2 linked regions of the Homo sapiens genome follow. The protein of the gene in region 2 purifies or fractionates together with the protein of the main gene of each other region. This does not show direct contact. Each region holds a gene or a part of one and is shown on either strand. Other genes may lie near its edges. The genes, in order: TNFRSF21 and ADCY3.

Region 1 (3,816 bases), on a different chromosome or scaffold from region 2:
CATTTGATTCCTGGACTCATGGACTCACTCCTCTCCACTCTCCTAAATCCATTAAGCTCATGTTCCTTTTCCCAAAACAGATAGATTTGCAAGGGCACCAAGCAACAGAGCCACACAGCAGTACTGACAGGAGACGAACAAATAGAAAAGTATATAAAGATTAGATAATGAGCCTTGCTATGACTTAGCTTACTAAGTGCCCCCCTTAGTTTTCTTGTTTTTATTTTTGTGTAGCACAAAGTCTTAGGCATAATTTTTAAATATGAAGCCACAGGGCAATGTTCTGATCCCCACCCACACCCTGCTCAGTCCCACACCTGCCTGAGGTCTCTCTGAGCGCAACTTTCCCACCACTGCACACATCTGTCATCTCCAAAGCCAGGATACTGACAAGAAAATCTTCTGGTGGCCTTTAGCACCTCTCAAGAACAGTGAGATCACTACTGCTCACTGATCTCACTGAGATCACTATTGCTTACTATTGCTTTGAGTCAACAGCCTAAGTATCAGTGAACCCCACCTCTGTATAGCCCTCAGTCCTGCCTGTACTCACTGATATCTGCCAGGTTCCTCCTGGGTTATAACCTCTACCCAAGCTCCTCTCCTCTTGGATTCAGGCTAGAAATGAAGGTGGTAAGAAAGCTGGGTGGCAGCATGCAAGCCAATTTAGGATTCCCATTTTATTTTTTGGTATTTGACAAACACAAACACTGGGGCAAGGCCAGTATTTATTCATGATCTCGCCCCTATCCTAAATAATCAAAGCTCAGCAGCTGTTGCTGCTACAGCCACAAGGCCCAGCCTTCTGCTAATGCTAAATGAGGATCCAACTTTGGGAACCAAATTGATTCCTATTATGGCTCCCATTGTCATTCTGTCAAACAGACATATCTTTGCCTAATGGTCCACACTGAGTCAGCTCCAAGTGATCACTGGACACATGCCCAAAGCTCTGAGATAACCTGGGCTCTTCTTGTCACAGAAGAGAAGCACCTGAGTTTGCCAAGAAGTTGCTGGTGACCTGGCATCACCGGAATTTGCCAGGCCTGCTTGGGGAAAGAAAGCCAACAGAATATTAGTGCTTTCTGGAAAATAAGCACAAGGAAAAGTCACTCAATTCATACCAGCCCCTGAATAGTAATGATCTGATAATGCACCGGATCATTTCGTGTCACCAAAAAAAAACCAAAAAAAAAAAAAAGATGTTTATTTAAGGCAATTAGAGTTTACATGCTTTATGAAGGACCAGCTGAACACAAAATTAATTTGCAAACTGTCTATGCAGCCTCCAAAGAGGCTTCACCTCTCATCTTCGTGGATATAGTTGCCTGCAAAGTTAAAGTGTGATGTCTCCACATTCTGGTCTACAATGAAGAAAGGACAAAGACCACCTGCCAGAGCCAGCCCAGAAGCTCCCACCTATTTGTTCTGACCCAATAATAGCATACCTGGAGAAAAGGACTGTCTTCAAACTGCCCCAGAATATACAGCATTAACTGTGCTTACTATATCCTGCTTGATAGACTTTGTCTACATTTAGCCACACTAAAATATGTCATGCAGGAATTTGGTGGATATATGCCTTTTCAAGCCTCCCTTTTTTCCCTTCCCAACTTAAGGTAGTCCTTAAATCCCATTTACGAGGAATTTTTTTTATTGCTGATTTGATTTACTTGTGTAGTTTATTTACACTAGAGGTGTGTTTGTTTTGTACTGGACTTGGGGAAGATTCAAACATATGCCTTCAGAAACAGTTCAGATGACAGAGCTCAATTCCATTATACACATTTTGACTGTAATGATAACTCATGGGGTCGGTCAGGACTCCTGCATTCCAGCACAGGTTCTGCGCTCCCCATTCCTCTGATTAGAAGTTGCTTTCTCTACTGAGGCTAACGTATGTCATTCTCAGATTTGAAAGTCTTTTTTTTCTCTTATTCTCAGACTAAGAGCCAAAGTTACTTCAGGTATTTTAAAGATTTTAACATCAATCATATTTTGTGTATTAAGGTAAGTATACTACATTCATCCAGTGATTCCACATGAGCGAGTAAAACCCAACCAGCACTGGTGATGGCCATGCTCATTTTATATACCATACGAATTGTACCTTCATGGCAAGATCCAAATCCCAATTCATCCCTGGGTTCCCACTGCCCAGAATAGTGCCTCACTTAGAAAGGGTGCTCGATGCAGTTTCATTTGTAAACATGAAAAAGCAGTCACTTCCCCAGTAGAGTATTTTTTTTTCTCTCAACCAAAAAATACAGGGTGTTAAATCAGTATTTTTTATGCTCCCTTCCAGCTTTCACATTCTAGGATTGTAGAGCTAAGATATATAGGAGAGAGAAAATCTTTTGGATATAATATCAGCTCTAATTTAAAGTTCTGCTCGAATTTGCCACCAAGTCTTGACATGATTCAGAACTTCAGCCCCCACCAGACCACTCCACACCTGCCCAAACAGCCAAAGTGAATTGCCAATGTACGAGGTAATGTACTTTGATAAATGATGGTCAGGAGGTAGCACTAAGCTACATGTCTAGTTTCAGTAACAGAGAAAAACACTATTACTTGGCACTTTCTAGGCAAACGCACAGCTGGACAGGCTATAACAGCAAATAGCCCTCTATCTGGAATTCATAATGCTTGCAAAAGAGTTTTCTAAAACTTCAGACCTCATATCTTTACCAATTATGGCTCCCTTCTCTTCTGAGGGCCTCACTGCCAAAATCCTACCTATGCAGTTAAAGCGAGCTCCCCGAGGGCAAGGGGCATCTCTGACTAAGTAGTGTCACTCTGGGCAAGCCATTCTAGAGCATTCCTTATCACTGGCACAAACCTAAAGCTCTCATGGATCTTGTCTCTGCCTTACAGAGATATGATATAGCAAGGGTAAGTGTCTCAGGCAGAATAGTACAATTGGTAAAGTCAAGATGGTGGAAGGTAAGCTTAGATTCTGAAGACAAAGCACAATCATGCACACTAGACTTACTGGGTGTCGAGCAACAAGAATGTTTTGTCCACCTGAGCCCCAGACTTTTGAACCCAGCTCTTGTCTTTCAGTGTATGTTTTACTTTCTATTATCATGCAGACACTCATCAGAAATAGAAGTGCAAGCAGCAAGAATACTTCCTTCCAAAGGCATTCCTGTAATTCTCATTCACGTTCTGTAACAAACCAAACCACCTTCTTAACTTTTCCCCAGTGAGCCTTCTCTGTTGTTACATTTCATTATCAAGCAATTTGGACTTGTGAAACACGCAGTGTGGCACAGGGCTAAGGGAGGACATGAGCTGAAGAGCCAGGCAGTCCTGGGTTCTGGCCCCAGCAATATCACGTGCAAGCTGTGTGGCCTGGGACAAACCAATGAAGTTCTGGGAGCTTCCATTTTCTCAACTATAAAAAGGAGACAATATCACCTGCTTCACAAAGATGCTATGAATAAATGAGATACTGTATACAAAGCACCTGGCATGTAGCAATTGCTCTCTCTATACATATACAATTGCTATATACATGTGTATATATTATATCATATTGTGTACCTATATATTTGTATTTTTATAAGCTTATAGTAAGCTATTTTTCATGCAGTTAGCCGGTCATGACAAACAAAAAGTCATAACACAAAAATGATGACAATAAATATTATCACACAAAAAGGGAGATATTTGAAAGAAGAGCATTAAAAGACATAATAAATAGAACATTTTACTGGGATTATTACTTTTTAATCTAACTGTAATACGTGGGCAGGCCACTAACTTGCCCACCTCCCCCAGTAGTGTTCTGAGTACCCTGCCACGTGTACC
Region 2 (3,816 bases):
GTGTGGCCTTTACCCCAGGGGTGGTAGTCCAGGAACTCTAACATTCTCTCCCTGCCCTGTCAGACACGTTCAGGCAGGGGGCTGTTCACGGCTATTTTCTTCACCTCTGTGTCTGCAGCACCTTGAACGTGCCTGGCACATACTTGATGCTCAGTGAAATATTAACTGCACGAATGAATAAAAGAGTAATTGGCAGAGAGAAACTGAGGCCCCTCGGGAAGTGGGGATAGGGAGGAAAGTCGCTTGGTGCCCTCGTCCTGCTGGCCTGTGATGCCTGACTCTGGGCTGGCCCTGGCCTGCCTTACCCCCCACCCAACACCAAGCTGTGGGGACCTTGCCAGGCCCCCTCTTGTGGAGGGGAAGAGGCCCACAATGAATTTCTCCTGCAGGAGCAGGGGCAGCTGGCTGCCTCGTGAAGGCCACACCCTGACCCTCCTTTCTGTGTGTACCTGGCAGGTATGTGCGGGAGAAGACCAAGACTGGGGTGGACATGCGTGTGGGGGTGCACACGGGCACCGTGCTGGGGGGCGTCCTGGGCCAGAAGCGCTGGCAGTACGACGTGTGGTCGACTGATGTCACTGTAGCCAACAAGATGGAGGCCGGCGGCATCCCTGGGTGAGTGCCATTCCAAGGGGGCAGGTTTGAGGACTGGGGAGGGGACCGTCCCCTCCATCCCCCAGGGCTGTGACCCTGATGAGGGACAGGGGGCCTCAGAGAAGGCCTCCCTACAACCCCGGAACAGCATTCCTCCTGTCTCGCCCTGGTCCTGGCCCTGGCTAAGGCCGTTCTGACCTGCCTTGGGGTGAGGCCTCTTTGGGCCTGATATTGGATGTGGCTTTTCCTTCCTGGACCCTGCAGTAGCCTGTCCTCCTGTCCCCTTTACCGACTTAGGGGGCTGCCTCCCCTTTACCCACTAAGGGGGCTGCCCCAGCTCTCCTTATGTCAGAGCCCAGGTCTCCCCAAAGGGAGAGTAATGAGCAGTCATCAGCTAGCGGGCTCGCAGGCAGCGTTTTGCAGGTCGCAGTGCGATTACACGCCTTACTTGAGCTCCCTTACAGGATAATGGAGGCCCTGCCTTTAGCAGGGCGAGGCTGAGGGAGGATCAGCCCAGCCTTCCCCATCTGGGCCAGGGAGCTTCCTTCAGTGGCATTTAGGATTCTTGGCCTCAGTGGTGACTCCTCAGAAACAGGTTTTATTATCTCTTGGCAGCAGGGGTTGCAACTGAGAAACGTGCAAGGTGGGGGATAATTGGATCTTGTGGCTCACGCCTGTAATCCCAGCACTTTGGGAGGCCGAGGTGGGTAGATCACCTGAGGTCAAGAGTTTGAGACCAGCCTGACCAACATGACGAAACCCCATCTCTACTAAAAATACAGAATTAGTCGGGTGTGGTGGTGTGCACCTGTAATTCCAGCTACTCTGGAGGCTGAGGCAGGAGAATTGCTTGAACCCGGGAGGCAGAGGTTGCACTGAGCCAAGATCAAGCCACTGCACTCCATCCTGGGCGACAGAACAAGACTCTGTCTCAAAAAAAAAAAAAAAAAAATTCCTTATCGCATTTGATCTGCTTTACAGCGGATCAAAGATTGAAGAAAGATTGTACTCCTGTGTCGTGGCTCCAACACTGAGGCTGAGATGGGAGTAAGTGCCATACGGCCCACACAGCTAGTTAGCGGCCCACACAGCTAGTTAGCGGCCCACACAGCTAGTTAGTGGCAGAACTGCCTCCACTTGGCCTCTGCCCCACATGCCCGAGAGACACGGGGCCGAGCAGCAGCCGGTGCAGCCGTGGTCCGTGGACTGTCCCCTGGGGGTGTGAGGGCCACCTCTGGCCGACGCTCAGGGCCTCTCTCTCTGCAATCCAGGCGCGTGCACATCTCCCAGAGCACCATGGACTGCCTGAAAGGGGAGTTTGATGTGGAGCCAGGCGATGGGGGCAGCCGCTGTGATTACCTAGAAGAGAAGGGTATTGAAACCTACCTCATCATTGCCTCCAAGCCAGAGGTGAAGAAAACAGCCACCCAGAATGGCCTCAATGGCTCGGTGAGTTCCCCACCCCACCCCACCCACCCCACCCACCCCACCCCTGGATTAGGGGGTTGGAAAGGAGGAGATTAAGGAAAGATTGCAGAAGAGGTGGCAGGACCCAGCAGTGGCTGGCTGTGAGAGGTGAGTGGCAGGCTGGCACCCTTCCCAAGGGAGAGCTGGTTTCTGGGGGAGATGGTGAGTGTAATTCATGGCAGGTTGCAATGGAGGTGACTGAAGCATATCCCAAGACCACATCCAGGAGGGGGCCGCTGGAGATGTGTCGGTGGCGCCCAGGAGAGCAGCTGGGTTGGGGCTCAGGGTCTCCTGCATGGAGGAAGTGAGTGAAGCCACAGGAGTGACGTGGATGCTCAGGGAGAGGCTCAGAGAGGAGGGTGGGGGTGGGGTGACTGGTCATGGGGGAGGAGGACCAAGGCCAGGAAGGTTTCCTGAGTGGGAAATGAGGGAGGAATGAGATAGAAGTAATAGAGCAGGGGTGTCTAATCTTTCGGCTTCCCTGGGCCACATTGGAAGAAGAAGAATTGTCTCGGGCCAAACAAAAAATACTGTGGGTTGAACAAGCTTGCAATCGTGCATCCTGTGGGCCTGCCCTCTGGTCTTTTTGTGGGATCCCCCGAATATCTACAGACCTGAAGCACTCAGCAGCTTCCCCAGGTCTGTCCACCAACCCCCAAACACCTCCTGTCAGTCTGATTAGAAACCACCAGCAGCTGTTGCAGAAATGGATCCCTTTACCATCCCCTGCTGAATCTGGAGGTTGTCTTATTTTTTGTAATCTCATGTCAAAACCCTTTCCTCCAGTTATGAGAGTCCATCTAACAAGACTTGGAATTAAGGAGCTTGGTGACTGTCAGGGAAGTCGTGTCATTTGAGACTGCTCTATGGCTGAGGCTTTGCCTAATTATGGCTAAAGCAAAGCCCACTCTGGTGAGGCTGCCGGAGTGAAGGCTGATACTCCCCGCTGATTCTAACCTCGATGTCAGTCTCATCCAGTGTCATTTTAAAGGCTGTCTCTGACAACTCCCAAATTTGTATCTCCACCCCCAGTGTCTTCCCTGCACTCAACATACAGCCACTTGTACGTCTCCATTTGTACATATAATAGGTATCTTAAATGCCACCTGCCCAAAGCTCCTGCCCTCCTTCCCACTCCATAACCTGCTCTCCCTCGGTCTTCCCATCTCAGTTAATGGCAGTTCCATCCTTTTATTAACAACTGCTCAGACCAAAAAGTTTGAAATCATCCTTGACGCCTCACTTTGCAATCCACAAGCAAGTTCTGTGGCCTCAGATTGCTCTCTAATCCCACCGCCTCCCACGCCCTTGTCACTTCCAGACCTGTCCACGCCACTCTCATCCCATGCCCAGATCATGGCTGAGCTCTCCTTTCCTCTAGGCCCTGCCCAATGGAGCACCAGCTTCCTCAAAGTCCAGCTCCCCTGCCCTCATTGAGACCAAGGAGCCCAACGGGAGTGCCCACAGCAGTGGGTCCACGTCGGAGAAGCCCGAGGAGCAGGATGCCCAGGTATGTGCAGGGCTCAGGGCAGGGGGTCACTGAGGGCCAGATGCGGGCAGGCACCAGGAAGCAATACGTTCCTGCAGCAGGAGTCCTGTGCTGGGGAGACCTGGCCACCACCCAGGACCTGCTCCTGCTTAGCACTGTAACCATGGACAGGTCACCCCTCCAGCCCCGCAAAACCCCACTGTCTCCTCATCAGTTACATGCCGGGGTGAGTAAGGTCAAAAGAGGTGCTTAGCTCGGAGGCCTTT

What was found.
Region 1: the proteins of ADCY3 (region 2) and TNFRSF21 fractionate together in Homo sapiens (co-fractionation; one large-scale study listed by BioGRID). This does not show direct contact.

What each region holds. Positions count from the first base shown.
Region 1 is NC_000006.12:47,303,108-47,306,923, forward strand, and holds part of TNFRSF21 (tumor necrosis factor receptor superfamily member 21 precursor), read right to left. Parts: intron 1-3,816.
Region 2 is NC_000002.12:24,836,672-24,840,487, reverse strand, and holds part of ADCY3 (adenylate cyclase type 3), read left to right. Parts: intron 1-456; coding exon 457-615; intron 616-1,575; coding exon of another isoform or gene 1,576-1,641; intron 1,642-1,865; coding exon 1,866-2,043; intron 2,044-3,442; coding exon 3,443-3,571; intron 3,572-3,816.